Regions from separate parts of the Homo sapiens genome. Here region 1 is linked to region 2. The links come from fine-mapping of genetic effects on gene expression. A gene starts in region 2. The other region holds a variant in brackets. All regions are shown on one strand. Distances are between the middles of the regions.

Evidence for each region.
Region 1: its variant is fine-mapped to the expression of CAB39 in skeletal muscle (FUSION, PIP 0.95).

Annotation. Positions count from the first base shown.
Region 1 is chr2:230,660,160-230,669,197 of GRCh38, forward strand. No RefSeq gene overlaps it. Among named protein-coding and RNA genes, the nearest start is that of LINC01907, 36 kb to the right of the region's middle. RefSeq lists enhancers at 2,752-2,831, 3,382-3,571, 6,259-7,124, 7,075-7,369, 7,339-7,818 and 5 more. The variant A/T (reference allele first, on the strand shown) is at 4,137.
Region 2 is chr2:230,707,185-230,716,222 of GRCh38, forward strand. CAB39 (calcium binding protein 39) reads left to right here and starts at 5,658. Exons shown (of 9, transcript NM_016289.4): 1 at 5,658-6,046. It overlaps LOC124907996 (formin-like protein 16), which reads right to left and starts at 6,142. Exons shown (of 4, transcript XM_047446832.1): 1 at 4,895-6,142. The coding sequence starts at 6,142. The coding sequence ends at 5,384. RefSeq lists a silencer at 5,430-6,369.

The sequences.
Region 1 (9,038 bases), 47 kb before region 2:
CACCGCGCCTGGCCCACTTACTCTACTTCTGCACCCCCCACCCTGCACATAAGGAGGGTACATCAGACCCAGAGGATGGCAACCCCCCCAGACTCAGAGGCCACAGGGAAGGGCCTGCGCTGGCCCACCTTCACCTCGATGCTGACTCGCAGAGCTCCGGGAATGTGGACCAGCAGGGAAGGAAAAGGTTCCCAGATAGACTCCGGAAACAGAGCTCACATGACCCCCCTGGGACTCTCTCGTCCCCGCACTGTCCCTGCCAAGGAAAGGACAAGGCCTTGGGCCAGTCTTCTGCAGGAGGTGTCCTGGACAGGCAGTTCCCAACCCACGTGTACAGGCAGTGGCTTCAGATTTGTCTCTGGGCTGTGCTTGTTCCTCTAGGAAGGGCCCCAGCAATTCCAGCCCCAGGGAAATTTTCTCTCCTTCTTCTGGTGTGGATCAGCCAGGGCATTTCACAACCAGCTACAGATGACAAAGAACTGGTAACAGGGCCACCTCCCGTGCCCTGGTCTGGGTGTCCCGGTGAAACTGAATGAAATGAACAGCAGGTGGCCGGGGTCAAACACCAAGTTAAACAGAAGGGGACAATCTCAGCTCCCAGGCAGAGACCACGGGTGGGGGAGGGAGAGCGGGCAGGAGGTTACAGACCACGTGAATAAGAGTTCAGATCTTTGTGGTACTGGTTGGCAGTTTCCGTTCTTACACCCCAGCTTCCTTCCTGATTCTCTGCCCAGCACAAGGGGATTGGGGAACATGTCCAGCCAACTATAGCCAAAGGCAGCACAGGGCAAGGTATACAGTCAGTGCCAGTTAATGGTTAAGACAGCCAGCATATCAGGCATTGCAGTGAGCCGAGATTGCACCACTGTACTCCAGCCTGGGCAACAGAATGAGACTCCATCTCAAAAAAAAAAAAAAAAAAGAAATAGACAGCCAGCATAGGAGTCAGACAGGATCCCAACTCCACACTTGAACTCTCTAAGCCTCGGTTTCCTCATCTGTAAAATAGTGATAACATTGAAGACCATCTCACAGGGATGCCAAGAAAATTAAATGAGAAACTCTATGGAATGCACTTAGGACAGGGCCTGGCACATAGTAGGACCTCAATAAATATTAGCCATACTATCAACTTGACTGAGAATGGTAGTTGAAGAACCAGTGGGCTCCACACAATCTCATATTAGAGAATCTGACTCTCCAGGCAGGCGTGAGAGTCAGTGCATGATGATTAAATCCTTTGAGGCACACGGGGGAAATGTGTCCTGCCTAGGGCTGTCTTACTTCTCTTCCTCACCCCTGTTGGCCTCAGTATCTGGAACTGCACCATAGAGATGAGTCCCTTTGGGTAGTGCCAGGCAGCGACTCAGATCCCAGGGTTCCAAATAGAGACACAGGGGCACTGCTGTACTGGGGGCATGGAGGGCTATAGCATGGGCCGGCTTAGGGGTGTGGTTTGAGCACCCCAGTTCCCCATAGGCCTGATTCCCCACAGAGCTCAGATGTAGAAGGGCCTGGCAGATCGGGCAACCAAAGCTCCTTTCCCTAACCTCACAAGGTCCAGAACCCCAAGATTTAGACTTTCTTCCTTTCCCCAGCCCCCTTATCACCACTTCCTGGCACTCAGCTCCTGCATCTGAGAAATGAGTATGGTACCAGGGTTGTGGTTAGGCTCAAATGAGCAACCCATGCAAAATCCTTTGAACCGAGCTAGACATAGGTGTGGTATTAGTTTGATAGGGCTGCCATTACCTAGATCCACAGACCGGGTGCCTTAAGCAACAGAAGTATACTTCCTCATGATTCTGGAGGCTGGAAGTCTGAGATCCAGGTGTTGACAGGGTTGACTTCTAAGAGCTCTTTCCTTGGCTTGTAGACTGCTATCTTCTCCCTCTGTCTTCACATGGTCGGCCCTGCGTTTGTGTCCTAATCTCCTCTTTTTTTTTTTTTTTTTTTCTTTTGAAATGGAGTCTCACTCTGTCACCTGGGCTGGAGTACGGTGGTGTGATCTCGGCTCACTGCAACCTCCGCCTCCTGGGTTCAAGCGATTCTCCTGTCTCAACCTCCCGAGTAGCTGGGCCTACAGGTGTGTGCCACCACGCCCAGCTAATTTTTGTATTTTTAGTAGAGGCGGGGTTTCACCATGTTGGCCCGGATGGTCTCGATCTCCTGGCTTCGTGATCTGCCCACCTTAACCTCTCAAAGTGCTGGGATTACAGGCATGAGCCACCGCGCCCAGCCAATCTCCTCTTTTTATAAGGACATCAGTCATATTGAATCAGGGTCCATCCTAATGACCTCATTTTAACTTAATTATCTCTTTAAGACCTATCTCCAAATACAGTCACATTGTGAGGTACTGGGGCTAGGATTTCAACATAAGAATTTTAGGGGACACCCTAATGTCCCTAATGTCACCAAATAATGGTGGCAGAAAGGAGGTGTTTGTTGCACTGAACTAAATAGCAATGTTTCCTGAGCCCCTAATAGTTGGTGCTCAGCAAACATTACTATTTAATTCAGTACAACAAATACCTTCTTTCTGCCAGCGTTATTCTAGGCCCTTTGCTTATGAGCAAAGCAGCCCAATTCTTTGTCCCTGTGGGGTTTACATTTTGGGGGTAGAGGGAGGGGCAAGAGACATCATATGTCAGACATACTAAAAAGTAAGTTATATAGTGTGCTAAAAGATGGTACGTTCTATACAAATAAATAAATAAATAACAGAGTAGAGTAAGGGGAATCTGGAGCGAGGGCCAGCATTTTGAACAGGGTAGTCAGAGCAGGCCTCATCGAGGCAACATTTGGCAAAGCCTTCAAGGAGATGCTCTATGGTCTATTATGGTTCTTCCTAGGGAATCGTATCAGAATTGTTGGGCTTTGAACTCCCATTTCCCTGCCCACTTCCACCCACGCTGATATCAGAGCAGAGACAGTGCCTCTGAGACACAAGATCTGACACTGACATTTGACTCTGCTCTTTATTAGCAGAGCCATGCCGGGCAAGTTACTCAACCTCTCTGAGCCTGTGCCCCACACACTGTACTCCTGCGGGCCATCACCTCTGTGCAGTGGGGTCAGGGTAGAGGCATGGCCCAAGGTCAGCCACCCATGGGCTGGGCTGCCCTAGGCTAGCTGGGGTGGGTGCTGGGCTTTCAGAAGTAGCTACCAGATTTTGCATGAGATGACCTGGGTATCAATTAGGACTGTGTTCACCTGCATGTAACTAAAAACTAGAGTAACAGGGATTTTTTTTTTTTTTTTTTTTTTTTTTTTTTTTTTTTGTCTCATACAAAAAAGGAAGTTTAGAGTTGGCAGTCAAGGGCTGGTACCATCGCTTAGGGGTCAGCCAACATCAGGACTCCTCCTGTTCTCCTCCACCACACTTAGCATCTGGCTTTTCCCCTCATGGTTGAATATGGCTGCTGCACCTCCAGGCGTCCAAACTGTCTTCCAAAAAGTTAGAAGGAGAAAACGATGAAGTCAAAGATCAAAGAGAAAGGGCTAAAGAGCATGCCAGTTGAATCTGTTTCTTTTTAAATATCCACCCACCAGTCAGGCATGGTGGCTCATGCCTATAATCCCAGGACTTTGGGAGACCGAGGTGGGTGGATCATCTGATGTCAGGAGTTTGAGACCAACCTGACCAACGTGGTAAAACCCCATCTCTACTAAAAAGAGAAAAAATTAGCTGGGTGTGGTGGCGGGGGCCTGTAATCCCAGCTACTCGGGAGGCTGAGGCAGGAGAATCACTTGAATCCACGAGGCAGAGATTGCAGTAAGCTGAGATCGCGCCATTGCACTCCAGCCTGGGCAACAAGAGTGAAACTCCAGCTCAAAAAATAAAACAAAAAAAAAAGTAAATTTCCACCCACTGACTCCTGCTCTTATTCCACTGGGCAGAACTAGGTCAACATGACCACCACTACATACAAAGGATCCAAGGAAGTAGTTGAGCTGGACACCTTGCCACCCCCCAAAGGCAGGATGCTGTTAGTAAGGAAGAAGGGGAAACTAGATACTGGGTAGGTGCCCAGCATATGCTCTCAGCTGAGCTCAAGTGCAGTGAGGGTGGGCGGTGCATCACAGCCCTGGCCCAGGGCCACCCCCAGGACTGGGAGGAGAGCCCAGAGCTG[A/T]GAGGGGCAGAGCCTGGGCTGCAGGTCTCTGAGTCTGCATGGTATGGGCAGTCTAGTGGTGGGAAGATTTTCTCCCTCCCCCTCCCCACTCACTTATGTGCACCGGCATCCACGCAGCCTCCACTTTCACAGGCTGAGGTGCTGTCTCATTTCTCTCACCCTCTGCCACACCACCCCTTGGGTCTCCCTGACATTGCGCTGCTTTCTCAGGCCTTGGCTGGAGCACAGTGCAGAGGGGGTGGGGATGGGGGAGCACTCCTCATCGCTGCTTTTCAGAGGATCCCCCTCCACTCTTCAAAAGAAAGGATGGGAAGTGGGGTGTGGGGCTGTGTGCTAAGGAAGGCTCTCCTTCCAGCTTCTACTGCCTGCCCCCCACCTCAGGATCAGAAGTGGGGGGCTCCAAGGGCCCCTCATTCCAGAGCCCATGGGCTAAAGCAAGTAAAGATGAGTGAGGATTAAAGCAAAAGGCAAACATGAGGACACAGAGCCTGCCCTCCCTGTCGCAGCAACCTGGTGAGGATGAACTCAGAGGCTGGCCCTAGTGGTGGAAAGTTAAGGAAAGACTGCCAGAAGATGAATGCCAAAAACCTAGGGCTCCCCTTCTTCCTCCCCATATCCAAGCCCTCATCCTCCTTAGACATACATCCAGAGTCTGACTGCTCCTCCCGCCTCCACAGCCACCACCCTGGTCCATCCTTTGTCCCGACTCACGTAGATCATGACATCTCTCTCCTTCCTGCACGTCCAGCCGCCCCAACCACCCTCATCACACAGCCAGACCAGCCCTCTCGTGTTTCCCAAATCTCCATGATGGCTCACAGGTTCCCATGGATTCCTGTGGACTCCCAGGATCACTTCAGCCACAGGGAAGTGTGCTCCTGACTCAGGGCCTTTTCATTTCTGGTACCTTCTGCCTCGGAGGCCCTTCCCCCTGGAGCCCTGGGCTGACTCCCTTACCCTTCAGACTTTCACTAGCATCTACCAGAGCCTTCCTCTGACCTCCCTGTGTTAATGACAACAGCTCTCCACCCTGCTGCATACCCTAACATGCTGAGCAGCTTTCTTTTCTCCACACCACGTGTTGCCACCAGACAAAAGTGCTACAAGCTCCTGGAGGGAGGGACCAGGTCTATAGTTCACTGCCATATCCACAGTCCCTCATGTACTCCCTCAGTGCTTGCTGAGTGAGTGAGTGAATGAATGAATGAGCGAACCACAAGAATATTATTTGACCTCAAGAACACCGCAGGAACTGGCAGGGGGACCATGATCTTCCTGAACGCTCTGCATGAGATGACTTGGCAGATCCCACGGACTTGCCTTCTTAAAACCACCCTGGAGGCCGGGCACGGTGGCTCATGCCTGTAATCCTAGCACTTTGGGAGGCCGAGGTGGGCTGATCACGTGAAGTCAGGAGTTCAAAACCAGCCTGGCCAACATGGTGAAACCCCATCTCTACTAAAAATACAAAAAAAAATTTGCCTGCATGGTAGCGGGTGCCTGTAATCCCAGCTACTTGGGAGGCTGAGGAAGGAGAATTGCTTGAACCCTGGAGGCAGAGGTTGCAGTGAGCCAAGATTGCACCACTGCACTCCAGCCTGGGTGACAGAATGAGACTCCATCTCAAAAAAAAAAAAAAAAAAAAAAACCCACCCTGGAAACAGGGAGAGAATCAGAGCGAAAGCTTCCAGTTCAAACGCAGGTTGAGAATGAGGTTTGCAGAGCCAGCGGGCAGTGAGTGCTGACCGAGAAGACCCATGGCGGCCCACTGCAGTGGGGGCGGCGGCAGTGTGACCTTGTTGAAACTAGCCGCTCCAGTGACCCAAGGCTGGGGGAGATTTGGCTCTGCTACTTTCCAGCACTGTGAGCTTGGGAGCCTTACCTGCTCCGAGCTTCAGTTTCCTTACTTGTATAATGGGGATTAAATAACACACTTTTTTTTTTTTTGAGATGGAGTCTCACTCTGTTGCCCAGGCTGGAGTGCAGTGGCACTATCTTGGCACTATCTGCAACCTCCGACTCCCGGGTTCAAGCAATTCCCCCGCCTCAGCCTGCCCAGTAGCTAAGATTACAGACACACGCCACTACGCCCAGCTAATTTTTGCATTTTGGGTAGAGACGGGGTTTCACCATGTTGGCCAGGCTGGTCTCGAACTCCTGACCTCAAGTGATCCACCCACCTCGGCCTCCCAAAGTGCTGGAATTACAGGTGTGAGCAACCACGCCCAGCCCTAACACACTTTCTTTATTGCCCTTGAATCAACCGCATTCCAAGGCCAACGTCATTTGGAAAGGTTGACCTAGATTTCCTTTTCCATCTCCACTGGGACCTCCCCTTTCACCCACCGGAACCCAGGAGGCTCTGATGCCTTGAACACACAGAAGGGCTCCTAATCTTTTGTACATCAAAGTCGCCCCAGCTTCTTTGCTGCCCAAGCTCACTGGTGTGGTTTCCTAATGTCCCCGACAGTTTGGGAGATCTCTGCCAAGGCTGGCCACCTGGTACCAGCCCAGGTGCCCCACCTGTCTCCCACCCCCAGGTCTCTGGTCACCTCCTGGATACTGTGAGTACTGGAGAACTTGCTGCTTGGGGACACCAGCACTCTCTCCCCTGAGGGCTGGGGCATATGCTCTCCAGACCCACCTTTCTCCTTCCCTCTCAGGACCCCTGGAGTGATCTCATCAACATCTGGCTTAACTCATCAGGGGATTTTCTGCAAGTGAGAAGGCTAATGCCTCTGGGGCCAGGCAGGCCTGGTGAATGTATGACAAAACTGCAGGGCATGGTAGGAGCGTGTACTGGTTTTCTAGGGCGCCGTAATGAAGTACACACAAACTGGGTGGCTTAGAACAATGGAACTGTGTCGACTCACAGGTCTGGAAGCCAGAAGCCTGAAATCGAGGTGTTAGCAGCACCATGCTCCCTCCAAAAGCACTGGGAAGGATCCATTCCAGGCCTCTCCCTGAGTTTCTGGGGGTTGCTGGCCGTTTTTGGCATTCCTTGGCTTGGAGACACGTCACCCAGTCTCTGCCTTCAGCATGTGGTATCTTCCCTGTGTGTGTCTGTGTTCCCATTTCCCCTTTTTCGAGGACAGAAGTCAGATCAGGGGCCCACCCTACTCCAGTATGACCTCATCTTAACTCATTACATCTGCAATGACCCTCTTTCCAAATAAGGTCACATTCTGAGATACTGGCAGTTAGAACTTCAACATGCATATTTGAAGAGGGTGCAATTTAGCCCCTAACAGGGCTGACGAGCCCTAGAGGGTGAGCAAGTCCACTCCAGTTTACTGTTGCCCTGCAGGGCTCTGGGAGCCTGTCCAGGGTTTCCTGGGACAAGGTACTTTCTGTGCCTAAACTGGGTGAGTCCCAGGAAGCCAGCTTGGTTAGTCACCTCAAATGGGGCCCTATCTTCTTATGTTTCAAGAGAAGTCAGAAACTCTGACTTCACGTGAAATCTCCCAGTTTTTGAATGGGCATCTAATTTGACAAATTTTAAAATCCTGGGCCCCATCTGAGGGTGTCTAGCCTGCGAGTGGCCAGTGGTCACCCATTGCCTAGCATGGCAGGGCAAATTGTAAGACTCCAAAAACTGCAAATAACAGCAACTGTGGCCATGAGCTCAGGCTGGGCAACTTGTTCTGGGGCCCTGCATCAGCCCCATCTCTTTGGAAGCCTTCCTGGGCCCCTACTACCCATGCTCAGCAATGCTTCTGGCTCCAGAAACTTCCAGCACTGTTTCAGATAGGGGGACTGGCATTTGCAAACTGTCTTGGAGTTGGTGACCCAGAAGGAGGGACCCCAGACTAGAGGAAGATGAGAAGGCAGAGAGTACCAGACAGTGCCATCTAGGGAGAAGAAACAAGTCATGAATATCTGATGTAGGGATGGGACGGACACTAAGTGGGAAAGGCCACCCTGCTGCCCAGCCCCCACCACCGCCAGCACCACCAGGCTGGCCATCTCTTTCCCACCTTCCCCACCACCATGCACGTGGTGCCATGCACCGCTGCTCCTCACCCACTCAGACCAGCTCCAGCACCTTTGGAGGTGAGATTAGCTTCTCACACAACTTCTAAGTCTTGATCATAGCACATGCTCTGCGGTTTTGCTGATGGTGACTAACGGAGGGAATTTCAGGCTAGATCAGAAAGGAAGGTGGAACAGGGTAAAGTGGGTGAGGATGAGGCTTTCTGGTTGCTCCTCCCCAGTGTCCAGGAAGTTGCCCATCCAAGCCTCTTTCCCCTGGTGGGGCTTGCCGTGCTGTGTCTCTGGTTTGCTGGCCTGGGCAGTGCCACACTGCCAGGCTTTGCAGATCTGGAAGGGGAAGGAACAAGCCAAAGAGGAAGTGGCATCAAGAAGAAGATGGGAAGGGCAGTCTCCCCCTTCCCTCTTGCCAGGCCTGCAGAATTGGGGAACCCGTATAAAAGACAACATCCCTGCTGGGAGCTGCACCCTCTGCCCGGCCCGGCCCCAGGTGCCCTGATCTGCCTGCCACGACCTGGGCAAAGCATGCTGTTCCTGCACATACTCGGGCTTTCTGAAACCTGAGAAGGCAAGGGGGGTGAGGGAGAGTCCCACACAGCCCAGGCCCAGCTGGTCAGGCTAATTTTAGGTTTTTCTCAGCCTGACTGAGGCCTACTAATCTCCACCATGCCAGAGAATGCACATGGAGCAGAGGCTGTCTTTACTCATGATGCCCCCTCATCCCTCCAAAAAGCTCCTTTTTCTGTCCAATTTCAATTTCTCTTTGACCTGCCCCAGGCCCACCCATCCCAGGAAATCTGCCCCGACCACCACCTCACAAAGAGAGCTCTCCCTTTCTCAGTGTGTGGGGTAACTGTGGTTGGAAACCACAGTACAGCCCTGTGTCCCCAGCCCTGGCACAGTGCTTAGCTC
Region 2 (9,038 bases):
CTCTGAGTCCAGCCCCACAGCCCCTGTAGGCCTCCTTCTCGGCGTAACGGCTGGGCTTGGTTGGGATGGACTTTAAACGTGCTGACATTTTTCTTACATTTCATATTTTGTAGTTAAGTTTTCCATCTATCTGCCTATCTAGGTTCATGAGCAAGGTTAGTCTAGTTTTCTTTTTTGTGTGTTGCATTTATTGAGGTTTTGGTATCATGCCAATAATCAGAATAACATCAGTATCTGGCAGGATGCAGTGGCTCACGCCTGTAATCCCAGCACTTTGGGAGACCGAGGTGGGTGGATCACCTGAAGTCAGGAGTTCGAGATCAGCCTGGCCAACATGGTGAAGCCCCATCTCTACTAAAAATACAAAGATTAGCCTGGCGTGGTGGCAGGCGCCTGTAATTCCAGCTACTTGGGAGGCTCAGGGAGGACAATTGCTTGAACCCGACAGGCAGAGGTTGTAGTGAGCCGAGACTGCACCACTGCACTCCAGCCTGGGTGACACAGAGAGACTCCGTTTCAAACAAACAAACAAACAAACAAACAAAAAATCAGTATCTTCCTCCACCCCTTCCCATCTCAGCTTGTTAGAAATGCAGAATCAGGGGTCCACTCCAGACCACTAAAACCATTATCTACATTTCTTCAAGAGCCCCTGGAAATGCACATTATAAATTCACATAGTTCGAGAAGTTGCCCTAGGCCTTATCATTCCTGAAAACCACTCCTTCCATAATCTCGGGAGCAAGCGACCTGGCTCTCCAACCAGCATGTTCTTCCTTCCAGCTCACTCCCTTACCGTGCTGATTCCAACCATCCGTTGATCCTGCCACTTCTACATGGGCCTCTCTCCCCCCACTGCCCACAACCCTTCCTCATTCCCTCCTGGACAGGTGTGGATTTAACAGTCCACCATAATTATTACTTCCTTATTGTACCTTCACCTTCCTTTCCCCTGTTTCCCTCCATGGAATTATCTAGCAAAAACAACCCTGGTGGAATAGATTCCCCACCTTCCCAGCAAAATGTGGCTGCTAAAAAACATGGAATAAGCCTGCCAACTGGTCCTTTACACCTGCTCCTCTCCCCTGGAACTTCCAACACCTCCTCCCTCTCTGCACTGAGCGAATGAATGACTGTTCTTCCTGTTTCCCTGAGGAAATCGAAGCCCTCAGAAGGGACTGTCCACAAGTTCCAGGAACCTCGTCTACCTGGATCTCTGCCTCGTGCCCACATTCTGCCTGCCCTCTTGGAACCGTGACCTCACCTGCCTTGCTCCTATTCAAGGCCAGACCTTCCAGTGCACTCTGCGTCTTTCCCTTCTCACTCAATCAGGGACAGCTCTCCAGAAAACACCCCCCAACCCTCATCATCACATTTTCCCTTACGACTGAATCATTCCCACCAGCATTTAAGCACATTGGAAGAGCTCCCAATCTAAAAACAAAACAAAATGAAATAAAACGAAACATTTGCTCGGACCCCACATTCCCCTCCAGCCATCACCCCATTTCTCTGCTCCTCATTAGAAACAAAACTTCATGAAAATGTTGTCTAAACCAATGGTTTCTTTCCAGGGCCCCCATTCTTTCTAGGGACTCCCCTCCCCGCCCCTTCCTTCTCCTCCTCTCCTGCTTTTGAGACGGAGTTTTGCTCTTGTTGCCCAGGCTGGAGTGCAATGCCGCGATCTCGGCTCACGGCAACCTCCGCCTCCTGGGTTCAAGTGATTCTCCTGCCTCAGCCTCCCAAGTAGCTGGGATTACAGGCACATGCCACCATGCCCGGCTAATTTTGTATTTTTAGTAGAGATGGGGTTTCTCCATGTTGGTCAGGATGGTCTTGAACTCCCGACCTCAGGTGATCCACCCGCCTTGGCTTCTCAAAGTGCTGGGATTACAGGCGTGAGCTACCGTGCTCGGCTTTTTTTTTTTTTTTTTTTTTTTTTTGAGACAGAGTCTCACTCTTGTTGCCCAGGCTGGAGTGCAACGGCACAATCTCGGCTCACTGCAACTTCCAACTCCCAGGTTCAAGCGATTCTCCTGCCTCAGCCTCCCAAGTAGCTGGGATTATAGGCATGTGCCACCACGCCTGGCTAATTTTTTGTATTTAGTAGAGATCACCTGAGTGGATCACCTGAGATCTTCTTTCCTTCTCTTTCTTTTTTTTTTTTTTAACATAGTCTCCCTCTGTCACCCAGGCTGGACGGCAGTGGTGTGATCTCAGCTCACTGAAACCTCCATCTCCTGGGTTCAAGCAATTCTCCTGCCTCACTCTCCGGAATAGCTGGGATTACAGCCATGCAACACCACGCCCTGCTAATTTTTGTATTTTTGGTAGAGATGGGGTTTCACCATGTTGGCCAGACTAGTTTCGACCTCCTGGCCTCAAGTGATCCACCTGCCTCTGCCTCTCAAGGTGCCAGGATTATAGGCATGAGCCCCCTCACCTGGCCAGATTTTCCTGGATCTCTTCCTACCAAACTGGCTCCTCCCTCTCAGGGTTCTTTGCTGGTTCCTTACCATTCCCTGACCTGTCATTGTTGGGGGACTGGGCTTAGTAGTAACACTCACATCCTAAAGGATCTCACTGAATTCAGAGGTTTTACCTACTCTGAGAACCACCTAAATTCTGTCTGTGGCCCAGACTTCTCCTCTGAAGTCTTCTTTTTTTTTTTTTTTTTTTTTTTTTGAGCCGAGTCTCGCTCTGTCACCCAGACTGGAGTGCAGTGGCGCAATCTCAGCTCAATGCAACCTCTGCCTCCCAGGTTCAAGCAATTCTCCTGCCTCAGTCTCCAGAGTAGCTCGGACCACTGGCGCACGCCACCACACCCGGCTAATTTTTGTATTTTTATTAGAGACGGGGTTTCACCATGTTAGTCAGGCTGGTCTCCAACTCCTGACCACAGGTGATCCGCCTGCCTCAGCCTCCCAAAGTGCTAGGATTACAGGCGTGAGCCACCGCGCCAGGACTTCTCCTCTGAACTCTTAAGTCCAACTTCCAACTTGGGTGTCCAACAGGCAGCTCAAACTTTGTATGTCCCTAAGTAAATTTCCAAGTTCCTCCCTTCACATCTGTTTCTGCTTAAATTTTCCCCATATCACCAAATTGTATTTTCCAGTTGCTTGAGAAAAAAAAAAATTAGAAATCAGGAAAATCCTTTTAGCTTTACCCTTTATTTATTTATTTTTTTTCTTGAGTCAGGGTCTCACTCTGTGGCCCAGGCTGGAGTGACAGTGGCACAGTCACAGCTCACCGTAGCCCCGACTCTCCAGGCTTAAGTGATCCTCCCACCTCAGCCTCTGGAGTAGCTGGGACTACAGGCACATGCTACCACGCCTGGCTAATTTTTTTTTCTAGAGACAGGAGTCTCACTATGTTGCCCAGACTGGTCTCCAACTCCTGGCCTCAAGTGATCCTTCCTCCTCTGCCTCCCAAAGTGGTGGGATTACAAGCGTGAGCCACCTTTTATTATTATTATTATTATTGAGACTGAGTACTGCTCTATTGCCCAGGCTGGAGTGCAGTGGCACAATCTTGGCTCATTGCAATCTCCCCTTACTGCAACCTTTGCCTCCCGGGTTCAAGCGATTCTCCTGTCTCAGCCTCCCGAATAGCTGGGATTACAGGTGCCCGCCACCATGCCCAGCTAATTTTTGTGTTTTTAGTAGAGACAGGGTTTCACCATGTTGGGCATGGTGATCTCGAACTGACCTCAAATGATCCTCCCACCTTGGACTCCCAAAGTGTTGGGATTCCAGGCGTGAGCCACCTTTTAAACGTGTCTACAGGTGATCATTTTACTCTTCTACTGCCACCACCCTGGACAGAGCCTTATCTTTTTTTTTTTTTTTTTTTTTTTTTGAGATGGAGTCTCCCTCTATCGCCCAGGCTGGAGTGCAGTGGCGCGATTTCGGCTCACTGCAACCTCCGCCTCCCGGGTTCAAGCAATTCTCCAGCCTCAGCCTCCCAAGTAGCTGGGGTTATTTTTGTATTTGTAGTAGAGACGGGGTTTCAACATACTGGTCAGACTGGTCTCGAACTCCTGACCTCAGGTGATCCCCCTGCTTCGGCCTTCCAAAGTGCTGGGGTTACAGGTGCGAGCCACCACGCCCGGCCGGACAGTCTTATCTTTTGGCTGGCTGATTTCAACAGGCTTCTCGCTGGTCCCCCTGCTGAAACCCTCAGGGCTTTCAGTCTGGTCCTCATACCACAGCCACAGGGATCCTCCTGAAATGTCATTCCACGTCCTTTCTCTGCTCGCAACCCTTCAAATTGCTTCCCATCTCCTTGAGAGTAAAAACAGGAAGTCCTAACTTTGGTTGGTAGGGCCGCACTTCTTCCTCATCTCTTCCCCTATCTGGGGCCGCTTTCAAGCCAGCAGATTCTCGCCTCAGGGCCTTGGTCCTGCTATTCCCTCTGCCTTTCCATACAGAAAGCTCCCAGGCTCTCTCTCTCCAGGAAGCTGCTCCCTGAATGAACACTGTAAATAACAACACCCTGCTTTCTCTCCCCTCCTCACCCAGTGGTGTTTTTAACTGTCCAGTATTTGTTTTTTTGTTGTTGTTTTTTGTTTGTTTTGTTTTTGTTTTTTGGAGATAGTCTCGCTGCGTCGCCCAGGCTGGAGTGCAGTGGCGCGATCTCGGCTCACTGTAACCTCCGCCTCCCGGGTTCAAGCGATTCTCCTGCCTCAGCCTCCTAAGTACCTGGGAATACAGACGCCCGCCACCACGCCCGGCTAATTGTTTTTTGTATTTTTAGTAGAGATGGGGTTTCACGGTGTTGGCCAGGCTGGTCTTGAACTCCTGACCTCGTGATCCGCCCACCTCGGCCTCCCAAAGTGCTGGGATTACAGGCGTGAGCCACCGCGCCTGGCCCAATTGTCCAGTATTATACATACCTGTAGGTTTATTAGTCAATTATTTGTCAACTGTTTGTGCTAGGAGCATGGACTGTTTCGCTCACTGCCCCATCCCTGACGTACAGGAGGCGCTTAAAAAGTAGTTCAGTTACACATTAAAAACAAAGAAACAAAAATACACACATATGGCATTTGTATGTGCCAGGCTCCGTTGTCAGAGCTTTGCAATGCACTGTCCCGTTCATCCTCAGAAGCCCGTGGCTGGTACCACTATATTATTACACACTTTTTTTTTTAATGTGTGAGGAAATCCAGGCACAGGGACGTGAAACAGCCCATAGATAGCAAATGGTGGAGCAGGACTTAAATCCAGGTTGCTGATTTAAATAGGAATATTCCCATTAATCTGGAACGTTCTGGCACTTGTCCCCCTGGATGCTGTGTCCCCCTGGATGCTAAAATGAAGCGATCTGCTCCAAGAAAGTAAGAATCGGTCTGCACAAAGTGGGATCCCGGCCTCTCGCAGAATTAAGCTTGAAGAGTTGAGGAAGTGGTCGTTGAAAGTGGGCGTGCGATTCCCGCAGTAAGAGCGCTCAGGCGGAGGAGAAAGGGCTGAGCCCCGCCTTGGAAGCTGCGGCGGAGGAAGAGGAACTGCGGGGCTTGGCTTCTGCTTTTCTCTGCGGCCCCTCCCGCTCGGGCCTCGCGCCTACTTGCGGCGCCCTGAGTCCGCCGGCCGCTCGGGGGCGCCCGAGGCGGAAGGGGGCGTTGCGGCACCGCCCGACGTCGCGTCCTCGGCGGCTGCGCAGTGCGCACGTCAAAGCCGGGCTCGGGCCGCAAGCGGGGCGAGGGGTTCGGGGAGCGGCGCGGCCTGGGAGACACAGAGCCTTCAGGCGCCGGGGCGGGGGCACAGGCGAAGACTAAGGCGGCGCCGGGCCCCACAGCAGCAGCCGCAGCCCAAGCGAGCGCAGCAGCGCGGCGGCAGCCGCGGGAGCCCCTGGGCAGCCGTCCGCCCGCGCAGCCGCCGCCGCCGCGGGAGCCCGTCGCCGGGAGCAGGAGCGGGCGGAAGACAACGGAGGGGCCGAGCGTCCGAGCCACTCCGCGGGGACCGAACGAGCAGCCCGAAGCGGCGGCGGCCGAGGACGGGGACAGCGACGACGCGGAGGCAGAGAAGGGAACGCCCGGCCCAGCCCCGTGAGTGACCCCCGGCCGGCCCTGCTCGTGGTGCGGACGCCTGCCCGGCTTCCGCCTGCCCCGCTGGGCCCTCACCGGCCCCGGGGCTGCCTCCATTTTCCTGGGTGGCGGCGGCCCCGGCCCAGCTTGTCCCCGGAGCCCCCGGGAGCAGCCGGGCCCAGCCTGCCCTCTCCGCCCGGCTCGGCTCCGGTCCCTCGCTGAGACGCTCCCTTTGCCTTCGCCGGCGTGGGGCGCCCGGGGGCCTGCAGTCCAGGCGCTCCTGCCTCTCCCCCCGTGGTTCTCTGGCGGGGCTGGCGGCGCGTGGTGGTCCGGGCCGGAGTCGGGCGGGCGGGGAAGTGCGGGCCGGGTCAACTGTCACCGGCTGCACCCGGGCTTCAGCGCCTCGCTCCCGCCCCTGGTAAACTTCCTGTTGTCGGGAGGCAGATACCAGCTTTGTGACCAATTCAGGAAAATGCCTAACTGATTTCTGGTTAGGAATTGGGCGGTCGGAGCGTTCTGGAGTTCAATGGAACCACCCCAAGCGCAGACTGCGTGCAGGCGCCGTAGTCGGCCCGCACCGGAGGGATTCAAAGGTGAAGCGGGCCCCGGTCCCCTCCCCCGAGGAGCTTAGGCTCTGGTGTGAGAGATAAGACGAGAACACAAATAACTGCGATACCGGGAAGGAGGTGATAAGTCCTGTGAAAGAACGACGGAGTGCTAGAACGGCACCCGGAAAAACCGAACCGATCACTTCTGCCTCGCAGAAACCTGGAAGGCTTCCTGGGCGGGGGATGCTGAGCAGAGTCTTGAAGGCCTGATGGGATTTAGGAGAGGAGGATTGCAGAAGAGGTGTGTGGAAGGGGTAGCAAAAGCGAGAAGACAAAGCCTAGAAATCATGGATAATTCCGTTTGTTGGCATGGTGCAGGGGGCGGGGGGTATTGGGCTAAAGAGGTATTTTGGGGCCAGATCCTTGAATGCTGTAGAGGAGCTATTTGAGCAGCATTCTAAGAGAAACTTAGAGCTCATTTCTCAGTGACTCATGAGCCCGGAAATGTAGGCTAGGGGATATTAAAGGCGCTCTTGTGAAAGGAGAGAGGAGGAGGCCCAGTCAGGAGTTGACATTCTGTGCCTTGAATGTAATGCAGTTTCAGATCGATTTTGACAGCTTCCCAGATAATCAAGTAAATCCATGCCCAGGCTAAGCAAAGTACCTTTGCAGAAAGCTTCATTAGATATCAGGCTCTTAAGAGGTAATGGAAAGGTGTCTATAAAATAAGCTCATCTGCACACAGAAGGTGTTTCTATTTGTGCGTTCGCTACAGTGCATAAAAACTTCTTGCACTTTGTATTAGGCGTATGTACTTTGGAATTACTAAGCTAAACCTACATTCTTTGAGGTGGCATTTGTGTAAAATAACATAAATTGATGATTTTTAAAAAATGGTTAGTAATATTCTGCTGTAGAAAGCCAGACGTAGACCTTTTACAGAAAGGTAAAACTTTGTTTTTATATTTTATTTTATTATGAAATCTTTATAGTAGAGCCAGAAGTGAAAGTGTTTAGCTTTATTTTGTAGTTTGTTCAAATTGTTAGGAAGTAATTAGCAGCTGTATTCGAAATCTAGAATATACGATCTGTGAAAGCAGCTTAGGGCCTAAGTTTTGTAAGCTTGCACTTGTTTGCGTGTATGACAAGTGAATGCCACCTTTTTGCAGTTTAAAAATTTTCTGCTTTTCAAAATAATACATGATCTTTGTCAAAGCTTCCAAAATTCAGGGAGTGCTAGAAAATCTTTAAAACATTTTCTATAATCTTACCACTTAGATTTGGTTACTGCTAACATTTTTGCGTATTTTCTTTCCAGTCTTTTTCTGTGTATTTTTTCTTTGCATAATGAAATATATTGTATGCATATGTATACACACACACATCTCTTATTAAGCTTTTCTTGTCATTAAATATCTTCATATAAAAAATTTTTACTCAACAATGGAAGTCTTCTAAGCATGTTATGTTTTCCTGACAAGGTTGTATTATTTACCTCAGATGAAATGCAGTAGTTAGGCTTAATAACTACTAGTGTGGACAGAACTTTTTCTGAAAGTTTCTTGTTTGAAGTATGTTTCTTTCTCTGTAAGACTTGGATCCTCTTGCTTGTTGAATAAAGTTTTTCTTGGCAGGATGTGTGTTGTCATGAGGTGTGGAAGAGGAAGAAAGCACACAGATCTCTGCTATAGGAGTGAATGGACTTTTAAAGGGATGTTGTCAAAAGATTACTGTCATGGCTGGTATACCATCCCCCACAGACGGCGATGCAGTGTCCCTTCCCACTCCCCACTTCGCTCCTGAAAAATAGTCTCTACACTAGGGCCATCCATATAGGTTAACTATTTTTTGAACATGACATCACGAAGACTCAGGCTGGATATAAGCATAGAATATTTCATGAAATGGTTTGCTACTATAACAAATGGGTGGTATTTGCCTTTTTGGTTTTGTTTTGTTTTTTGAGACAGGTTCTCACTCGGTCGCTCAGGCCGGAGTGCAGTGGTGCGAACATGGCTCACTGCAACCTCAACCTCCTGGGCTCAAGCCATCCTCTCACCTCAGCCTCCTGTAGACGGGACCACAGGCTCGTACCATCACATCCGGCTAATTTTTGTATTTTTATAGAGACAGGGTCTTGCCATGTTTCCCAGGCTGGTCTTGAACTGCTGGGCTCAAGTAATCTCGCCTTGTCCTCCCAAAGTGCAGGGATTACAGGCGTGAGCCACCACGCTTGCCTGGATATCTGTTTTTTTATTTCAAGGCAGCTTACTTCCCTTCATTAGCATTTTCTACTTCAGGTTCTTGTACTAAGTCAGTTTTTTCCCATGTATTTTACATTCTAAGGTGTATTAATAAGATCTCTGTTTCTGTTTCATCACGTATGAAGTAAGATGCTGAGTAAGGCTGTATACGTTTCCTAAAGTTAATGTAGAAGAACTGCTAAGAAAGTCCAGTATAAGTAT